2 linked regions of the Homo sapiens genome follow. The protein of the gene in region 1 interacts with the protein of each later gene in a biochemical or structural test. Each region holds a gene or a part of one and is shown in the gene's direction. Other genes may lie near its edges. The genes, in order: ATG7 and IRF2.

The links.
Region 2: the proteins of ATG7 (region 1) and IRF2 form a complex in vitro, tested with the Homo sapiens proteins (one study listed by BioGRID).

Annotation. Positions count from the first base shown.
Region 1 is NC_000003.12:11,273,024-11,282,396, forward strand, and holds part of ATG7 (ubiquitin-like modifier-activating enzyme ATG7), read left to right. Parts: intron 1-1,190; exon of another isoform or gene 1,191-5,797; intron 5,798-7,970; 5' UTR 7,971-8,079; intron 8,080-9,146; exon of another isoform or gene 9,147-9,169; 5' UTR 9,170-9,373. UniProt on the Homo sapiens protein: E1-like activating enzyme involved in the 2 ubiquitin-like systems required for cytoplasm to vacuole transport (Cvt) and autophagy.
Region 2 is NC_000004.12:184,392,809-184,403,323, reverse strand, and holds part of IRF2 (interferon regulatory factor 2), read left to right. Parts: intron 1-4,244; coding exon 4,245-4,409; intron 4,410-10,515. UniProt on the Homo sapiens protein: Specifically binds to the upstream regulatory region of type I IFN and IFN-inducible MHC class I genes (the interferon consensus sequence (ICS)) and represses those genes. Also acts as an activator for several genes including H4 and IL7.

The DNA of each region.
Region 1 (9,373 bases):
AAGTACAGTACTAACGTACATGATGTTGGAGAAGTACAAGCCAAACCGTGTGTGTGTGCACGTGCGTGCAGTTTCCTGATTTTTAAACACTGGCGACTGATGCCATTTTTTAAAAATTGGCAAGTAATTCTGGCGTTTAAAAACATTGGCAACTCAGTTTTTACAAAACCCTGTTCAACTGTAACCAGTCATATCTGTGGCTGTCAGTTTGGGACCTCTGGATCCCAGACTCCCTTTTTCATTGACTACTTAGATTTTTTTCTCTGACACCTCTGCCCACTGGCCAGATTTCTTCAGTGACAGAAAGCTTTCTACTTCTGGTTGCTCCTGTTTGGTCCTCCCCCAGTTCTGACTCTTAGGTTGAGCTGAAAGCAGCTACTCGGTAATCTTAGCTCACTGTTCCTCCTTCAGGCTCTTGGAATCACCCCTGCATTTAATTGCCCTATACATCATTGAAAGCTGCTAGTTTGTCTTCCTCTTCTCACCTTTTCTTCTCTAGGCTAAGCATATTTAATGTATTTGCTCATAGTAAACTTAACAGTGACAGCAAATTTTGTCATGTTTTGTTATATCCCCAGCATATAGAGCAATGCCTAGCATATTATATATGCTCAATAAATATTTGTTGGATGAATGAATAAAACAAATATTTGCCTGTTATGTGCCTGGCATTATTGTGGGCACTGGTGATCTATCAGTAAAATAAGAAGAAAAAGAACCCTGTTTCATGGCACCTTCTAATAATAGTGGTGGTGGTGGCGGTGGCGGCATTGTCAGTAAGGGTTGGTAGGTGTTTCCGATTCTGAAACGTACAGGGTCATGGGATGGACAGTAATTGGGGGGAAGCATAAAAGCTAGCTAGTCAGGGATGGCTTCCCTGAGGAAGTGACCTAACACTTGAATAAAGAAAAGTCCAGTCTTGGAATGGCTCATGTTGCTAAACTGCTTTCCCATCCCCCAACGCTGCTCCAGTCTTGTTAAGCTGCTTGCAGGTGTGTGTCACCTATAGCCCTTTGCTTCTGCTGCTTCGAACATCTCCCCTTCCTCTTCCATTTATCTTGGCCAACTCCTTCCTGCCCTCATGTGACATGATTTTGAAATCCTTTAAGAGCTGAGTACTGGACTTTCCATTACTCAACCACAGGTTCCGTTTTTCGTTCCCAGCCAGCATCTCATTATAGAGAATAAACATTTATTGAGCTTCAGCTGTGTGTCTGGCACTGCGCTGCAAGCTGGGAATACAAAAATGAGTAAGATACACATCCCTGTCCTCAAAGAGTTTACTTTTTTTTTAAGCCAAGGAGATAGCAACGGTATGGCATGAAGCTATTGCGGAGGTTTGGTAGAGGAGGACTTAGGGTACGCATAAGTCAGGCTGACTCATCAGAGAAGGTTTCAGTGAGGAGGTGCTGCTTTAGCCAAGACCTGAAGGACGAACGAGATCTGACAGGTGAAGAGTGGTTCGAAGTGAGATGAGCAAAGGGCTAGAGGTGAGAATGCATGGCCTGCTTGTGGTTCACTGGAGTGCCAGTGTGGAGGTGTAGGATGAGAGGTGACTGGAAAGGTAAGCACTAGCCACATCGTGAAGGGCCCTGTGGACAATAGCATGTTACCCGCACATAGACTTTGGGATCCAAGATAGCTGCGTACCAATATTCCCATTGCCACTGAACTAGTTTTGTGACCCTGGGCAAGTCACTTCTTTCTAAGCTTCAGTTTCCTCATCTCTAAGAAGGGGAAATAAAAACTGTACGAGGTGATATGTTACTCACTTGACACTGGTAGATGATAAATACTCAATAAACAGTAGTCATTAATATTGCCAGGCCCAGAAGTTTGGACTCTAAAATGTGGGGGCGGGGGTGGAGAGCAGGACACTGAAGATTTTAAAACAGATGCGACATCCTCTCATCTGTTTTAAATTACCCAGGCAGCAATGTGGTGATTACACTGGACAGAAAAAGACAAGCAGGGGACCAGTTGGGTATAGTTGCAGTGATCCAGGTGACAGGATGAAGATCTGGATGAAGGCAGTGACAGTGGAGATGGAGAGGAGTGGGAGGAGTTGAGAGATTAAGGAGGTGGAATTTGCTGGACTTGGTAACTGATAGGATGAAACAGAAGAAGGGGACAAGAATCAGGATCCTGATGACGGGAGGGCAGAAATGAATTTGCTGTGTGGAATTGAGCAGTAACAAAATTCTTTGACTAGTGTCTCTAATAGATTAACCCTGACCTCTGATTTTATTTGGAATTCAGTTTGCCTCTGTCGTCCACTTCTACCCATGGAAATGACGTTCGCTAATGTCTTCCTCTCCTCTTTTTTTTTTTTTCTTTTTTTTTGAGATGGAGTCTCACTCTGTCGCCCAGGCTGGAGTGCAGTGGCACGATCTCGGCTCACTGCAAGCTCTGCCTCCTGGGTTCACTCCATACTCCTGCCTCAGCCTCCCCAGGAACTGGGACTACAGGTGCCCACCACCATGCCCGGCTAATTTTTTTTTTTTTTTTTTTTTTTTAGTAGAGATGGGGTTTCACTGTGCTAGCCAGGATGGTCTCCATCTCCTGACCTCGTGATCCGCCTGCCTCAGCCTCTCAAAGTGCTGAGATTACAGGCGTGAGCCACCGCTTCCTCTCCCCTTTCTATCTCCTGATCTCCCCACCCTTCTCCAGTGCGATTAAGGCCTGATTGTATAATCAAGGGACAATAAATACTGGAGGTGCTGCTCTGTTAATTGGTAGTCAGTAGGTATTACCATGATCTTGGCAGACTGAGGAATAGCCTATTCACTCCATCTCAGACCGGCTTCAGAATGATCACTTTTGGGATTTCCTCACACCTTCATCCCAGTTACCATCCTTGAACTTGCTCTGGTTTGTCAGCCTCTCTTTGAGTGTGTGGTACAGAAAGGAAATCCTCTTTCCTTGAGGACTCTAACCATGCAGAGCAAGACTGCACTTTTCTTGTGGTAACCTAAAGCCCTGCCAGCTCCATTATAGACACATTGTGCTTTTGACACTATTACACTAGTGTGCCACCAAATAGGCCCTCAGCGTGGCTCAGCCCTCCCCATATCCTCAGGCAGCTCTCTTGTCCATTTCCCTTTATGTCTTCCTCATATTCATTCCTCTCCTCAACCTCCTACCTTGACTTTTGCTCCACTAAGTTGCAGCCATTAATTAAGGCATCGCAGCTTCCTCTTCTATCCTTTACCAACTGATCTTTAGCTGACCCTATCCTTTTGCCTTTTATTCTAATTCTGTGAAAGAAATGGTGTTTTAAGACTAAGTCCTCTATTTGTGCTTGAGATCCCATCGCCTCCTTTGCCTCAAGGACTGGGTTCCATCATTTGTTCATTTTCTTTTCTGTTTCATCAACCCTTCTCATTTAAATATTCTCTGTTTACTCTCATTTTGGAAAAAACAAAAACCCTCCAATTAACCTATGCTGCACCCTGTCACACCTCTTTTACCCAGCCACCTTTCTTGGAAGAGTTATCTAGAGTTGCTTCCTGTACTTCCCTAAGTCATTGCTAAAATCCTGCTCTCGTCCCACCACTCCCCAAAGTCATCAGACCTCGACATTGCCAGAATACCTGACCACTTTTCCTTCTTATCTTTCTTGGCACATCTGACATTGCTGACCTTGCCCCTCACTTAGGAAAACCCAGTCCTACTTTGTATTATCTCTCTGGCCATTTGTCCCTCAATTTCCATTGTGGGCTCCTTTCTTCCCCTTTGTCCCTCACATGCCAATTTTTGCCAAGACTCTGCCCTCTACTATATTCTTTTCAACCGCAGCTTCAAACTTGTTTATATGCTCATGACCCCTGTTCTGTATCATAGCCCGAATCTCTCCTGAGTGCTACCCTCAAACTCAAACAAGTCTAAAACTAAGCTCCTCATCTTCCCTTTGAACCTGCCGTTCTTTCTCCATTCTTGAATCTTGCCAATTCCTCTCCTTTCATTTAGTCATCCAAAACAGAACCCTGAGAGTCATCTCAGACTCTTCCTCTGGTACTAGCCCTCCTTTCCATCTTCCAAGTCCAGGTAGTCATCAGAGTTCTATAGATTCGACTTTGTTGCTATCTCCTGACTCACATCTCCTCCATTTCCTCCCTTGCTCCCTCATTTCAGGCTCCCCTCCCTTTTTGCCTGTCTTTCTGCACAGCCTCCCAGCTGGTTGCCCTGCCTCAGCAGTCTGGTCCTCACTGCTGTGGATTGCCTTTACTAAAATAGAGATCTATGCAGAAATACAGTTGCATAGCTTTTCACATAAGGCTCTTCATGATATGGCCTTTGCCTGCTTTTATGGCATGGTCCATCTACTCTGCCCCATGTGCCTCTCCTTGCTGCCATACAGAACTCTATCAGGGGAACCTGCCCCCAATATTTCAAGGTATGTTCTTTCTATTTTCCATAAGTGTCAGCTGGCTGAGAAATAAAGAGAAAGAGTACAAAGAGAGGAATTTTACAGCTGGGCCTCTGGGGGTGACATCACATATTGGTAGGACTGTGATGCCGACCCGAGCTGCAAAACCAGCAGGTTTTTATTAAGGACTTCAAAAGGGGAGGGGGTGTGCGAACAGGGAGTGGGTCACAAAGATCACATGCTTCTGAGGAAACAGGACAAGGACAAAATCAGAAACTCCTGATAAGGGTCTATGTTCAGCAGTGTATGTATTGTCTTGATAAACATCTTAAACAACAGAAAACAGGGTTCGAGAGCAGAGAACTGGTCTGACCTCAAATTTACCAGGGTGGGGTTTCCCAATCCTAGTAAGCTTGAGGGTACTGCAGGAGAACAGGGCATATTTCAGTCCTTATCTCAACTGCGTAAGACAGACACTCCCAGAGCGGCCCTTTATAGACCCCCCCCCCCCCACCAGGAATGCATTCCTTTCCCAGGGTCTTAATTATTAATATTTCTTGCTAGGAAAAGAATTTAGTGATATCTTCCCTACTTGCACGTCTGTTTATAGGCTCTCTGCAAGAACAAAAATATGGCTGTATTCTGCCTGACCCTGTAGGCAGTCAGACCTTATGGTTGTCTTCCCTTGTTCCCTGAAAATCACTGTTATTCTGTTCTTTTTCAAGGTGCACTGATTTCATATTGTTTAAACACACATGTTTTACAATCAATTTGTACAGTTAACACAATAGTGGTCCTGAGGTGACTTACATTCTCAGCTTACAAAGATAACAGGATTAAGAGATTAAAGACAGGCATAAGAAATTATAAAAGTATTAATTTTTGGAACTGATAAATGTCCATATTAAAATGAAATCTTCACAATTTATGTTCAGAGATTGAAGTAAAGACAGGCATAAGAAATTATAAAAGTATTATTTGGGAACTGATATATGTCCATATTAAAATGAAATCTTCGCAATTTATGTTTCTCTGCTGCAGCTCCAGCCGGTCCCTCCGTTCAGGGTCCGTGACTTCCCGCAACAGAACTCATTTGTATTTTCTCAAACATACCATCCTGGTTTGTTCTTTCATTGTTTCAGTCATCAACAAGTATTTATTGGGCACCTGTGAGGTGCGAAGACTGGTGTTAGAAAAACAATGACGAATAGGGGAAAATGAGAAGCTGGCACGGTTCCTTTCTCATAGAATTTTTATTTATTCATTCTTTGTTTCAGTCATCAACAAGTATTTATTGGGCACCTATGAGGTGCTAAGTCAGGTGCTAGAAAAACAATGATGAATGGGGGAAAATGAGAAGCTGACATGGTTCCTTTCTCATAGAATTTTTATTCTACTGAGGAGGATAACTGCATACGTGCTATGAAGGTAAGGTAGTTGGTGCTCTTTGAGGACTAGAATACAGGAGGATCGACCTAATCCAGAGCTGAGGGAGTCAGGGAAGGCTTCCCTCAGAAGTGATGATTGAGCTGTGATTTGAAGTGAGCAAAGAAATTCACTAGATGATGGGTATGTGGAGGTGGCCAAGAAAATTCTAAGCTTATGCAGAGGCCATGGGGTGTTTCTGCAGCTGATGATGTGGAGCTGAGTCAGCTTCCTCCCTTTGCCTGGAGAGTCCCCACTCCCTACCTCTAGCCTCCTCATCCAGGGGTCCTTGCATGGGGCTAGTGCTGTCATCTAACCCTCCCTTTCTCAACCATCAGGGGTGGGTTTAGAAGTTTGTGGAGCTGTTTTATTTTGCTTTGTTTTGTGACATTGACCAGAGGGCATTACTGCATTTATTGAGAGAGAGCCAGAGATGCTCAACATTCTGCAGTGTGCAGGGATAGCTCTAAACAAAAAAGAATTGTTCCATCCAGCATGCCAGTAGGGCCCCTGTTGAGAATCTACTTGGATGTTCTTAAAACCTTGGGTTAAGGGTTTCTATAGGATATTCTTAAAACCTTGGCTTGGCTGGGTGTGGTGGCTCACGCCTGTAATCCCAGCACTTTGGGAGGCCGAGGCGGGTGGATCACAAGGTCAGGAGTTCGAGACCAACCTGACCAACATAGTGAAACCTTGTCTCTACTAAAAATACAAAAATTAGCCAGGCATGGTGGCGGGTGCCTGTAATCCCAGCTACTCAGGAGGCTAAGGCAGGAGAATCGCTTGAACCCGGGAGGCAGAGGTTGCAGTGAAGCCGAAATTGAGCCACCTCCCTCCAGCCTGGGTGACAGAGCAAGACTCTGTCTCAAGACTCCGTCTCAAAAAACAAAAAATAAAAAGCAAACAAACAAAAAAACCCCACCTTGGCTTAAGGGTTTCTATAGGAAACACTGTTGCCTCATCAGTCTAATTTAGATATCCCTCCTCCTATAACATTCTGTACAAACGCCAGGCTATACTGTATTTGTTTTACCTCCAAATTGCTATACTCCGATTCCTCTTCTGTTTTGTTGTCTGTTTTGGCTTCAAAATTGTTAGCTCTTTAAAGGTGGGGACCATAGTTTTTTTTTTTTTTGCCATTGAACCCTGAAATGTAGCACAGGGACAAGTATGTAACATAACTGTTTATTGAAGAAATAACTAATGGAAGCCCCAATTTCATTTCTTTTCTTTTCTTTTTTTTTTTTGAGACAGAGTCTTGCTGTGTCACCCAGGCTGGAGTGCAGTAGTGCTATCTCAGCTGACTGCAACCTGCGCCTCCCGGGTTCAAGCAATTCTCAAGCTTCAGCCTTCCGAGTAGCTGGGATTACAGGCGCCTGCCACCATGCCCGGCCCTTTTTTTGTATTTTTAGTAGAGACGGGATTTCGCCATGTTGGCCGGGCATGTTATTGGTAAACAATATGATATTAGTCCTGCTTTTTGAGTGTCTCCTATGGGCCAGATGTATGCATTTTCTAGTTGAATCTTCACACTAATTCTGCACAGTAGGTGGTATCCCCATCTAACAGAAGAGGAAACAGACTCGGAGAAGTTGAATGACTTGTCCAAGGTGGTGTGGCTAGAAAGTAGCAGAGACAGGATTTGAACTCAGGTCTCTCTGGCTCATGAACCTATGCCCTTTCCAGTCTAGCAGACCATCTGCCTTGTCCAGTTGTTTTCTTGAACTTAGATTTAGGGCCCTAGATTTACCTCTATGAAATTTCAAATCTTGTTAAAATAGGCCTGCCATTCCAGATGGTTGGAATCTTTTTTTATCCTGAATTTTAGTCACTTGTATTGCCTGTTTCTTCTTTTGTCATGAAATTGATAAGCAAATCTATATCATTATCCAAGTTATTGGTAAAATATGGTAATAAGAATACTTTATTGAATATGTTTATTTGCCTATTCCCCCTGCTCTTAGCCCCAGCACAGGGTTCAGTGCACATGAAATACTTAGTAAATGTTGATAAATATTCATTCATGTGGATAAATAAAATAAATTGGACAGGCCCAGAGACTAAGCCAAAGACGTACTGCTATTAGCTCCTTTCTAATTAACATTAATTAATTCAGTAACCAAGATCCTTTGAATAAGATTATTTTACCAGTTCTTAATCCCTCTAATTATGTCAGGATCCAATTCCTGTATCTTCACCTTGTCTACCGGGATTTCTAGAGCAGCCTTGTGAGAGACATTTCTGAGACCTGTATGTCCTGCGTCTATGATTCTTCCCTGATCAAGGTAGGAATGCAGTTACTCTGTCATGACTTTTTCTTAGAGAAACCATATTGGCCTCTTGTGATTACTTAGGGCTGCCTCATACAGTTATGCAGGCTGTGCACTGCACAAGAGGCCACATCAAAGGGGGTTCCATTTATATCATAGGTATCATGGGTGCATTTTTGTAATGACAGTGGCAGAGAAGGCTACCATGTCTTGAGCTAATCTAATCAGTATATTACAACATTTCTCTAACTAAAGGAAGTAAAATCTTGAAGCAGAGGTGTAATTTTCTGATTGTACAAAGGTGCTAAGTGGACTAGAGTGGCCCATATGGGCCTTTCCTGGGAGCAAAACTTCTGTCCAGTGGTCTTTAGAACCCATCTTTATTCTTATCTTTGAAAAATCAGGCCGGGTGTGGTGGCTCACGCCTATAATCCCAGTACTTTGGGAGGCTGAGGCAGGTGGATCACCTGAGGTCAGGAGTTCGAAACCAGCCTGGCCAATATAGTGAAACCCTATCTCTACTAAAAATACAAAAAATTACCTGGGCGTAGTGGCGGGCGCCCATAATCCCAGCTACTTGGGAGGCTGAGGCAGGAGAATTGCTTGAACGTGGGAGGCAGAGGTTGCAGTGAGCCGAGATCGTGCCATTGCACTCTAACCTGGGCAACAAGAGCGAAACTCCATCTCAAAAAAAAAAAAAAAAAGAGAAAAGAAACAAAGAAAAATCAAACATTTTGAAAATCGGAAATCAGGCCTTTGCTTGGCCCAGTTTTAAAGTACTTCTCCCGTTTCTCAGGATTCTTTAAACATACCAGAAATGAAAACCACAGAGATGTAATTATTTAGAAGCAAGCCTTCATAACTCAGCCAGCTTTTAGGAAACCATCATAGATTTTAGTTGTTGGTTGGCATAGGGCTCCACAGTGATTTAGACAAATCCAGGTGGGTGTCTCTCAGATGAACAGAGAAATGGGCAACACTGTTGATCAGTGGAGGTAACAAAAGGACTCAGAAGGAGGCACACTGCCCTCCATCTTCCTGGCATTATTGCTTCCTCTCTCCTCTTTCCCACATTTTCTCAGCTGTCACTGTCCCTCCCATGTAGGCTTCTCAAACCCCATAATGCTGGTATCCAGTGCATCCGTTCTCAAAAACTGAAGCTGATGGACACCAGATTGCATGTGAAGGTGAAGGATATTATAGCAGAAGGAAACCAAAATAAAAGAAAAACAGCTCCTGGAAGTAACCAATGAGAAGGACAGATAAGAGTTTGAAGACTGTGGATGTGACTGCTTGTTCCCTGGTTGAC
Region 2 (10,515 bases), on another chromosome or scaffold:
TGCCGCTTGGTGGTCCAGGGAAATCAGTTCACATGTCGAGAGAGAGAGAGAGAAACAGATAGAGACTGGTTAGTGAGAGTGTTGATGCTCATCTGAGAGCATTTCGATATTGGGATTTCCCTGCTTCTCTCATGGGCTTTCACTCGAGAGCTGGAAAGTTTCTAAAGTACCCACGATGTCTGGATGGAGAGAAGCCATTGTCCCTTACCAGGGCATAAAGCAACACACTCCTATGGGGGAATTTGGCCTGAGAGATAACGTAATTATATTAACTTGGTATCCAGATCATAGCCCAGAAAACAGACTGACTTTTCTCTCCTGGTCAGCCGCATTCAGGATACACCTAAAATCTGCATGGACGTGCTTATCTACTTTTTTCCCCAAGTCATGTATATTAAGTGAAATACGGTAAAATTCACCCCTTTTAAGGCACACGGTCCTATAAATGTTGACAGACGCACTCAGTGATGTAACTACCACCATAGTCAAGACAGAACATTTTCATCACCCCAACACGTTTCCTCCCTGGCCCCAGCCCTCGCACCCACAGCCGGCTGTCTTTATCACTTCCCAAAGGTTTCAAGAGTCCACTTGTCAGAAGTCTTGACATTTTTCTAGAAAACATTAATTGTCACGTCCCGTATTTGCAGATTGTCACAATCCCCTGCAGGACTCCACTCTGGCTCCAGTCAGTGAGCCTCGGCCCCATCACATGTCCATTTATTCAGGGGAGAGTCCCTGAGCGCCTCTCCGGTGGGAGTTGTGAGCATGTGTCATGACTGGACACAAAAAGTTCATACTTTGGTTGAGGAGAGATGCCATTGACCAACTCAAAGCTCCATACGGGTATATAGCGTTAACCAGCAACTTGAGGTCAGAAGTGTCACAAGGTCGCGGCCCATCGTAGTTTCGGCCGAGTGACGGGGACAGTGAGTGAGAGGCACCCAGGGGAGAGAGGCCAGTCTGTGCTGGCGGGTCAGGAAGGGGCTCCAGAAGTCAGGGGCATGGTGAATGCTGCCTGTTGCTCAACCCCCACTCCTGTGCCACTACCTCATTGAAGCCTTTGATTCCTCAAACTGGAAAAAACACCCCACTTCTCTAGCTTCCATTGTATGGCCCCCTTCTTTTTCTTTTCTTTCTTTTCAGTGCTCACGGCCTTAAACTGACTCTCTAGATGGTTAGTCGCTGGCCTATAGCCATGTATATGAACTTCTTACAAACCGGATCCTTGACTGCATCGATCTTCCGCTGCTCCTTCTAGCCCTGGGAGGCTGGGAGGTGCAAGCAGGTGTTCCATAAATCTCTGTTAGTTGAATAACCGACTAGGACGTCATGGGGAGAAGCAGTGAGAGAAAGAATTCCTGGTTGGAACAAAGGGATCTGACTAGGGGGATACTTGAGCTGCTGCCATTGTTTGTAGTCCCAGCTGGCTTGCCCTCTTTCTGTTAGGAGCAACGTGCAAAGGAGAGATGAGTTTTGAAATATTGGAAGTTAAAATGGCTTTGACTTAAGTCACATTTATCTAAGACCTTCACTGCCTTAGTATGCAAGGTATCGCTGCGCCCTCCCTCCTCAAACTCTCACACCCCATTTGGTTTCTACCTCCACCCACCAGCTGCTTCTTAGGACTTAGGATAGGGCAGGCCATTATCTTGTTTTCCTGCCATTTTATTTTACTTGGCTGGAAGAGGCAGAGGAAACTAGAGAGAGGTTGGTGTAGGTCAGCGTCAGTCTGTGTCTAGTGACCTGCATAATTGATGTCCTCACCCTCACGTAGGATAATCCAAAGGATGAAATAAATGGGCTTGGGAGTCTGCCTGCCATATATAGCCTGCCTGCCTTTTCTTTAATTTTATCCCCACCAGGAAAACCTAAACAGGATCCGGTTTCCCTTCCATTCTGTATGCTGTGGCTTTTGGACTCTTGTATCACAGCCCCAAATCCCCTTTCTGAGCCTCTTTTGTGCCTTTCCTTTCTTTATTAAAGAACCTATGAATTGCCACTGCCCTCTAAAACCTTCCCTGCGTAGAAATCAGATAATGTGCTTGTCACTCCACAGACAGCAATTAAAACAGGAACCTGTTTATAAACAAAAATACTTCAGAAAATAAAATACTTGGAGTGATTAAAACGAGCCTCTCCATGACGCCTGGCGTCTCAAGGAGACTGGAATGCGTTCTAACCTGAATACTTTGCCGATTGGTGAGAAAATGACTGCAACATAGAGCACCACATATACTCCAAGCTGTGCGAGTCTGGACAAGTCACTCTCCCTCTCTGTGCCTGAGTTTCTTCATCTATAACAGGATAACGATGCTTTCTCTGTCATCCTTATGGGTTAAAATGTTAAAATAACAGATACAGGTATGAGTAAAACGTTGATGATGGTGGCAAAGTGCTTTGAGGACCTTGGGAATTATTTCTTCACCTTTATTTATTGAAGCTAATTTTCAGGGACATTTCATCCAACTAACAGTGGTATGAGGTCAGTTTCATTCAAAATGAGGGCAGGACCTTAGGGACCTTCAAATTAAAATGGCCATGAAACATCATGACTTACCTATGAGAATGGCCAAAATAAATAAACAGTGATGACACGAAATGCTGCCGAGGCTGTGGAGAAATTTGATCACTCAGACACTGCTGGTGGGAATGTAAAATGGCACGGTCACTCCGGGAAGCAGTTTGGCAATTTTCTTGTAAAATTAAACATGAAATTACCATATGACTCAGCAATTGCATTCTTGGGCATTTATCCCAGAGAAATGGAAACTTATATTCATACAAAACCTGAACACAAACATCCATAGCAGCATTATTTGTAATAGTCAAAGGCTTGTAGCAACTCAGACATCCTTCAGAGGGGAGAATAAACACACTGGTACACCTATACCGTGGAATACTACTCGGCAATTGAAAAGGAACCGATGACTGATACACACAACAACTTGGGTGACTCTGCGGTGAATTATGCTGAGTAAAAAAAAAGCCAGCCCCAAAAGTCTACTGTATGAGTCCATTAATATAACATCCTTGAAATGAACAAATTAATGAAATGGGGAACAGATTAATAGTTGCCCAGGGGTCATGGACAAAGAGATGGATGGGGAGGTACTGAAGGAAGGTGGCTATGGTTACAAAGAGTAACGTGAGAGAGATTGGTCGTGATGGAACTGTTTGGTGTTTTGACAGTGGTGGTAGGTACATGAACCTTTATGTGTGATAAAATTGCACTTAGTCCTGGTGCAGGTACACACTCACACAAAAGAGTGCAAGTAAAACTGAGGAAATCGGAACAAGATGGGTGGATTGTTATTTATGTCAATACTCTGGTTGCGATATTGTATTCTAGCTTTGTAGCCTATAACCATTGGAAGAAGTTGAGTAAAAGGCACACAGGATCTCTCTGTATTATTTCTTACAACTGTATGTGAGTTTACAATGATCTCAAAATAAACAATATAAGAAAAATATTTGAGGCAGTTTTCAGAGCCAGGGTGGTCAGAATCCATCTTATCAGTGTTCCGGGGAGCTGATGCTACTAATGTTTGCCAGAATTGGAGATCTGACTCTATTCCATTGTGCTGATATTTCAGCCAGTTGGACATGTTGCCTGTAGAGCAGGAAGAGAGCTGGGAGCGTAAGCAGAGCGCCACCCAGCTAGATGGGGACCTTGGGCATTTATCCCAGAGAAATGGAAACTTATGTTCATACAAAACCTGAACACAAACATTCACACAGCTAGATGTGACACAATTGGGTAGATTTTCATGGCCCTTCCTCTTTAGTAAGGTTTGATAATGTCTCCCTGGATTGTAGAACCCAGAAAATAAGCACAGCGCCTTCTTTTGGAGCAAGAGCAGGGAGCAGAAATCGGTCAGGTTCAAAGTACTGTCATGTCTGGCCCTGGGGCTGGGGCTGGATGCCGCCTCTGGTCCTGTGGCCTCGGCTGTGACGGGGTTGACTGTGGAATTCTGCTGAGCTGGAAAGGACATGGCCACCGTGCGTGCCATTGGCAGGCATGCTGGAGATAGACCTGGGGAGCCAAGTGCTGGCCGGCTGCTCCCTGGGAGACATCACACCAGAGCTACAGAGCTCAGGCGTGTTCTTCAGCCCCATGGCAGGGGACAGATGGTGATGGGAGCCTGGCGACCTGGCTCTTTTGGGGAAGACTCTTTCTTGAGAAAGTGTGCTAGAATTGTGAGGTCAGCAGACTTTGCATGATGGCTGTCTTTTCTTTGAAGTTGTAGGACAGTCCCATCTGGACAGCAACATTGAGAATCAAGAGATTGTCACCAATCCGCCAGACATTTGCCAAGTTGTAGAGGTGACCACTGAGAGCGACGAGCAGCCGGTCAGCATGAGCGAGCTCTACCCTCTGCAGATCTCCCCCGTGTCTTCCTATGCAGGTAAGCGTCAGCGGGAGGCTCCGGGAGGCGTGGGAACCGGCCGCGCAGTCCTTTGGTCTAGGGTCACCCATCTCACCACCCCACGGAGCATCCCTCCTCTGTCCTAGGAGTTATTCTCCCTGGAGTTTTTCATACTTTAATTATCTTGATCAACATCTTCTTGGACACTTTTGTTCTCAGGTAGAGGACAGGATCACAGCATTTCTTTACTCAGTTGGCCATGACATTTTTTATTTATTTATTTATTTTTTTTTTTTTTGAGACAGAGTCTCGCTCTGTCTCCCAGGCTGGAGTGCAGTGGGATGATCTCGGCTCACTGTAACCTCCGCCTCCCAGGTTCAAGAGATTCTTCTGCCTCAGCCTCCTGAGTAGCTGGGATTACAGGCGCACACCACCATGCCAGCTAATTTTTGTATTTTTAGTAGAGACGGGGATTCACCATGTTGGCCAGGCTGGTCTCGAGCTCCTGACGTCAGGTGATCCGCCCACCTTGGCCTCCCAAAGTGCTGGAATTACAGGTGTGACCCACAGTGCCTGGCCTCCCATAACATTTTTATATATGGTTACAGATAAGATTTCTTTAGGGCAGTAGTTCATCAGAGTCTAATTTATTAGCCCAAGTTATTAGAAATTTGGCAGAGTGTTTTAATGGATTCTCAGTTTGAGCAGGCTGGATAGGACCTTAGAGATGATCTCTTCCTGTTCCTTCATTTCTGAAAGGGAAGGGGCTTGCGCAGGGTCGTACAGTCAGCAAGTGTTTGGGCCAGGACTTGACCTCAGCCTTCAGACCCCAAGCTCATTGCTAGATCCATTCCATCCACCAAGCGTACTTGTCCTTTCCACATATTTTCTCTTTCTTTTTATATCTAGTACAGGTTCTAATTAGGCCAGATGACTGAGCCATTTCCAATTCTCCAGGGACTTGGCTACATAATGACAGGAGTTGGCCCAGGCAGAGTCACAGGGGGAGGAACAGATCCAGTTGGTTCTTCCATTCTTCCAGAGTAAAAGGATGGCTCCTCTCGTTCGCCAACATTACTTCATCTTCTCCTCTCTTCCTGATGATCTCCATTGAATTTTGTGGAAATCAATTGTAATTAGGAAATATAAATTCTGAGTCAGTGTTACTGCTTGCAGATATTAAAAATAAAAAGCAGAGTCCCCATCCTGGGAAACTGCAGTTCAGCTCTAGCAAATAGTTCAGGGATTCTTCCCTGTGCTCTTTACACGCTGCCAAATGGGATGTCCTCCAGTAGGTGCCACCCCCAACACTGGCTCCGACCAGCGTTGGAATTAGAGTTGACTCAAAGGACTGTTGTTTGTGAATTATCAGCCACTAAGTCTAATCTCATTTTCCCTGAATGCCAACTTTCTTTTTTTTTTCACTTTTAAAAATTGTGGTAAAATACATTAACATAAAATTTACCATTTTAGCCATTTTTAGGTACACAGTTTAGTAGCATTCAGTGCATTAATGTTGTCGCAGCCATCACCAGCATCCACCTCCAGAACGTTTTTCATCTTGCGAAACTGAAACTCTGTCTGCATTAAACACTAAGTCCTCTTTTCCCTCCTCCACCCCAGCCCCTGGCAACCTCCTGCCTATTTTCTATCTCAGTGAATTTGGCTATTCTAGGTACCTCCTATGAGTGGAATCATAGTGCTTGTTGTTTTGTGACTGGCTTATTTCACTTAGCATAGGTCCTAGTGTGCATTTATGCTAGGAGCGTAAGTGGAATGTGAGAATAGACCTTGGCCACAGGAAGATTATAATCTGTCAAACAGGATAAGCTTGTCTTCGGTGCTTTATTCAGCAAATGCGTTTTGGACTCTTACACGTGCCAGTCCCTGTTTGGTCCTTGCCAGAGTGCAGTCACAAGAACTACTATGTTTTGCAAATTTATTGTGCCCTGGGAACCATGCTCAGTGCTTGGGTACAGTTGACTGTTGTTGTTGTTGTTTGTTGTTGTTGTTAATAGAAATAGGGTTCTGCCTTGCTGCCCAGGTTGGTCTAGAACTCCTGGGCTCAAGTGATCTGCTCGCCTCAGCCTCCCAAAGTGCTGGGATTACGGGCATGAGCTGCCATGCCTGGTATGATACAGTTGACTTGTTTAATTATAATTAGAGTAACCCTGTCAGCCTGGGTATCGTCATCATCCCGTTTTTAAAAGTGAGGAATCTGGCTGGGTGTGGTGGCTCACGTCTGTAATCCCTGCACTGGAAGGCTGAAGTGGGAGGATCACTTGAGCCCGGAAATTGGAGACCAGCCTGGGCAACATAGTGAGACCACACTTCTACAAAAAATAAAAAAAGTTAACCGGGTGTGGTGGCATGTGCCCGTAGTCCCAGCCACTTGGAAGGCTGAGGCAGGAGCATCCCCTTGAGCCCAGGAGTTCAAGGCTTCATTGAGCCCTGGTTGCACCATTGCACTCCAGCCTGGGTGACAGAGCGAGATCCTGTCTTAAAAAAAAAAAAAAAGAAAAAAAAATATATATATATGGATCTGCGGCTGGCGTGGGTAGAGCAGCGTGTCTGAGGGAGGAACGATTGGGAGCACAGCTAGAACCCATGAGCCGTTGATGCCAAAGGCCGGTCCTTAACGCCCGCCCTGTGTCGCTGCCCTGGACAGCGCACGGGCTCTGCCGTTCAGAACACAGCCACATCCCGTGATCTCATTTGATTTTCACAAGGACCCACCAAAGGAGGCAGAGCAGAATGTTTATGCCTAAATTTTACAGTAGAGCTAACCGAAGCGTGAAACACTCAGCCACTTTGCTTATATTTACATAGTTATGGCTAAAAACCCATGACTTTCTTCTATAGCCTGCTGCTGCAGGCATCGTTACACTCCATGTGGTTTTCTTTCTCTCTTCTTTTTTTAGGGGGTTGGAGCTTTAGAATAGACTTCTATGTTTATCTGTTGAGTAAGACTTTTCTGAGGTCTTCTTGGGGATTCTGGAAAGACCTCTTCTTGCTGTTCTGCCAGCAGTGGCATTTGCTCAAGCAAAAGATTCCGGAGAACAGCAGATCCATGCAGAGAGAAATGAACATTTCATTACTCTCTTCAGGACATTTGCATAGGTTTGAAAGGAAGGATTTCAGTGCCAGGATGGCAGTCAACAGGAGGTTTTGCTGGAGCCTGGCTTTTCAGCCTGGCCTTTGGTTCTTTCCGTTGTTTTCATTGTCTGGATTCTCCAGAACCTCGTGGAGGGAGGCTTACTGGTTGGAGGCAAAATGTTCCATCGCTGCTGATGTTCTAGAGCTCACAGTGGTGTAAAACATTTCCCTGCTACTGACTGTAGCTAATTTTAGTTCCTCCGTCAGAAATTGTATAACATGCTGTCAGGAAAGGCAGCTTTCTGCGTGTATTCACCTTTCTTGCTTTATGTTCTCCAGTAGAGTCGGCCATTTGCCTGTTTTTCATGATGGAGTTCCTTTGTTTGGGCTGTTCATCTGAATTTCAATCTCCTCTGACCACCTTTTTTTTTTTTTTTTTTTTTTTGAGACGGAGTCTCGCTCTGTCGCCCAGGCTGGAGTGCAGTGGTGCGATCTCGGCTCACTGCAAGCTCCACCTCCCGGGTTCACGCCATTCTCCTGCCTCAGCCTCCCGAGTAGCTGGGACTACAGGCACCCACAACCAAGCCCGGCTAATTTTTTTTGTATTTTTAGTAGAGACGGGGTTTCACCGTGTTAGCCAGGATGGTCTCGATCTCCTGACCTCGTGATCCACCCGCTTCGGCCTCCCAAAGTGCTGGGATTCCAGGCGTGAGCCACCGCGCCCGGCATGCTCTGACCACCTTTATTCATCTGTTTGGGAAACTGGTATTTGGAGGCTGCTGTTTGCTAGTTTTTCCCCCTACTGATCGTTGAATCATAATCCCAGTAGTATATTACAAAACCACATTCAGTTTTGCAAGTCTGTCTTCTCCTCTGTGGTCTAAATATTATGATGAGAAAGAGAAGAGATAGTACTTGCGTTGGATGTTTTAAGACAACATAAAATTCTAGTGTGATTTGTGAAACTTTCATACTAGGGAGGGACATTTCAAAGTGCCACTTTGGGAAGCTCTGGCGGAGAGACATGTCATGTTTAAAGGTGCATTACAAAGTGACCCCTTGCCTGATCTGTGGCATCAGAATTTTATTAGGTGGTTGATGGTTTAGTAGAAGAAAACCACAGTAGAATAATGGGGTGGGGGAGGATGGGTAAGAGGGGCTGGAGAGTAGACTCGAGAAGAAAACATCATCTGAAGGACTCACTGGCTATAATGAGAGAGTGGAGATCGCCTGCTGACCAGCAGCCATCAGTAAAGGCTTTGAATCCTTCGGGAAACCACACCAGGCTTGCATTTTGTTGGGCAGAGCAAAGACACAATCGCTTTGAGATTAAGAGGATTCCGATTTGAAAATAATTTACTCCTGGTGAAAGTAATTGAGAATATGATCAATAGAAAGAAATTCAAATCAAACTTGCTGAACAAGAGCCTTCCAGAAAGTGTAGCAGAATGTCAGAGTGCAAAAAGCCTTTCAGGTGAAAATGCATCCTCTCCCTTCCCGCAGTGTTCCTGCTTAGACAATATGTATATCCTCAGCGAGGCGTTAAAAACTGGACTGGATAGAGAGTGAACCTACAACCAGTGTCACCCTAGAACTGGAAGAGCTTTTGAGATCATCTAATCCAAATCCTCCCCTTCCCTCCCACCCTAGATGCTTTCAGGAAAACTGAGACCAGAAAGGTTAAGTGAATTACTCATGTGCCTGTTGGTACTGTACGAACACCTTCAGCTTCTTCATTTGTTTGGAGTTGCTGGAGAAGCAACTCCAGACTTCTTTATTCCATTGTATTCGAAGTAAGTAATAAACAAAAAGCAAAAACAAATTCAAACTAATCAAAAGGGAAAATGAAATGACAACGTATGTTGATAGTTCGATAGTAACACTGATCTGGAGGCCCAGCTGCAGTCAGCTCCCTTGTGTAAGAAGTCAGCGTGGAAGTGGCAATGGTGGTCAAACCAAGGAAACAGAGGACACGGGGCGCAGTGCATCCAACAAAGCACTTGGAGCCACCGATTCTGGGGTCACAGAGAGAACTGCTCCCCTCAGGGGGAGGTTCAGGGTTCTCTGCTCCTAAGCTAAGGTACTGAAGGCCCCTTTTTGAAACTGTCAGTGTCCTAATAGGGCGCATCTTCCTGACGACTTCAGATGCTGTGGAACTTAATCTAGACACGACGCTCTTTAACTCGCATTTGTGTCAGCTGAAAACATAAGTTCGGAGCATGTGTATCTTTTCTTATCTGCAGCTATTTCCCCGAAGCTGAAAACTGGGTACTTAAAGGAAGTTAGCATCCCGGTCACATTCATGGGCGGTGCAAGGTCTTACCCGGGAGCCTTACCCCAGGATCTGACTTCCAGCCCCTCCTGCACCTGCGACTGGGGCTGTGCTGGAATCCCAGCCCCCAAAGCATGCTTGGTTGCGTATCTTTGTTTGTATTTGGAGGGGAAAGGAAAAGAAGACAGTGATATTTATGGAGAGTCATTAGGAGTGAAGAGCATCTGAACCCGTATGAAAGGAAGAGAAAGCTTGGCTTTGGAGCACAAAGAAAGCTAAGCATAAAATGGAAAGCGGATCTTGAAATGTTGTCAGAGACCAGAACACCAGGGAAGCAGGGCTGCTGTGTGCAGTGCACAGGCCCTGGAATCAGAAGTACAGTTTTGTTTTCTCTCCTCTGTGCTGTCTCAGTTGGCAACTTTGGCAAGTTTCTCAACATCTCTGTTCCTCATTTTTCTTCTTGGGAGTGGCTGTTCCGATTCCTGCCTCCTCAGGATACTGAGCCAGCACGAGGGTTCTCTGAGGAGGGGAATTTTCTTTTTCTGTTGGTTTTCATGTGTTTCTGCGTGGAAACAATTCTTGTGCTCGGCAACGTCAGCTCATCTTCATAGCTGGGATCGTCGTCAGCTGAGGCTGAGGGCTTCTCTGGGTCTCTGTGGCTCCCAGCACGGGGTGTTTTGGGGAAACATGCCCAGTCCGAGGAGTGGAGAGATCTGTCTTCTGCATGCTCATGGCCAGCCCACCGCGATCACTCAGGTTTGTGTGAAGTTACTGGAG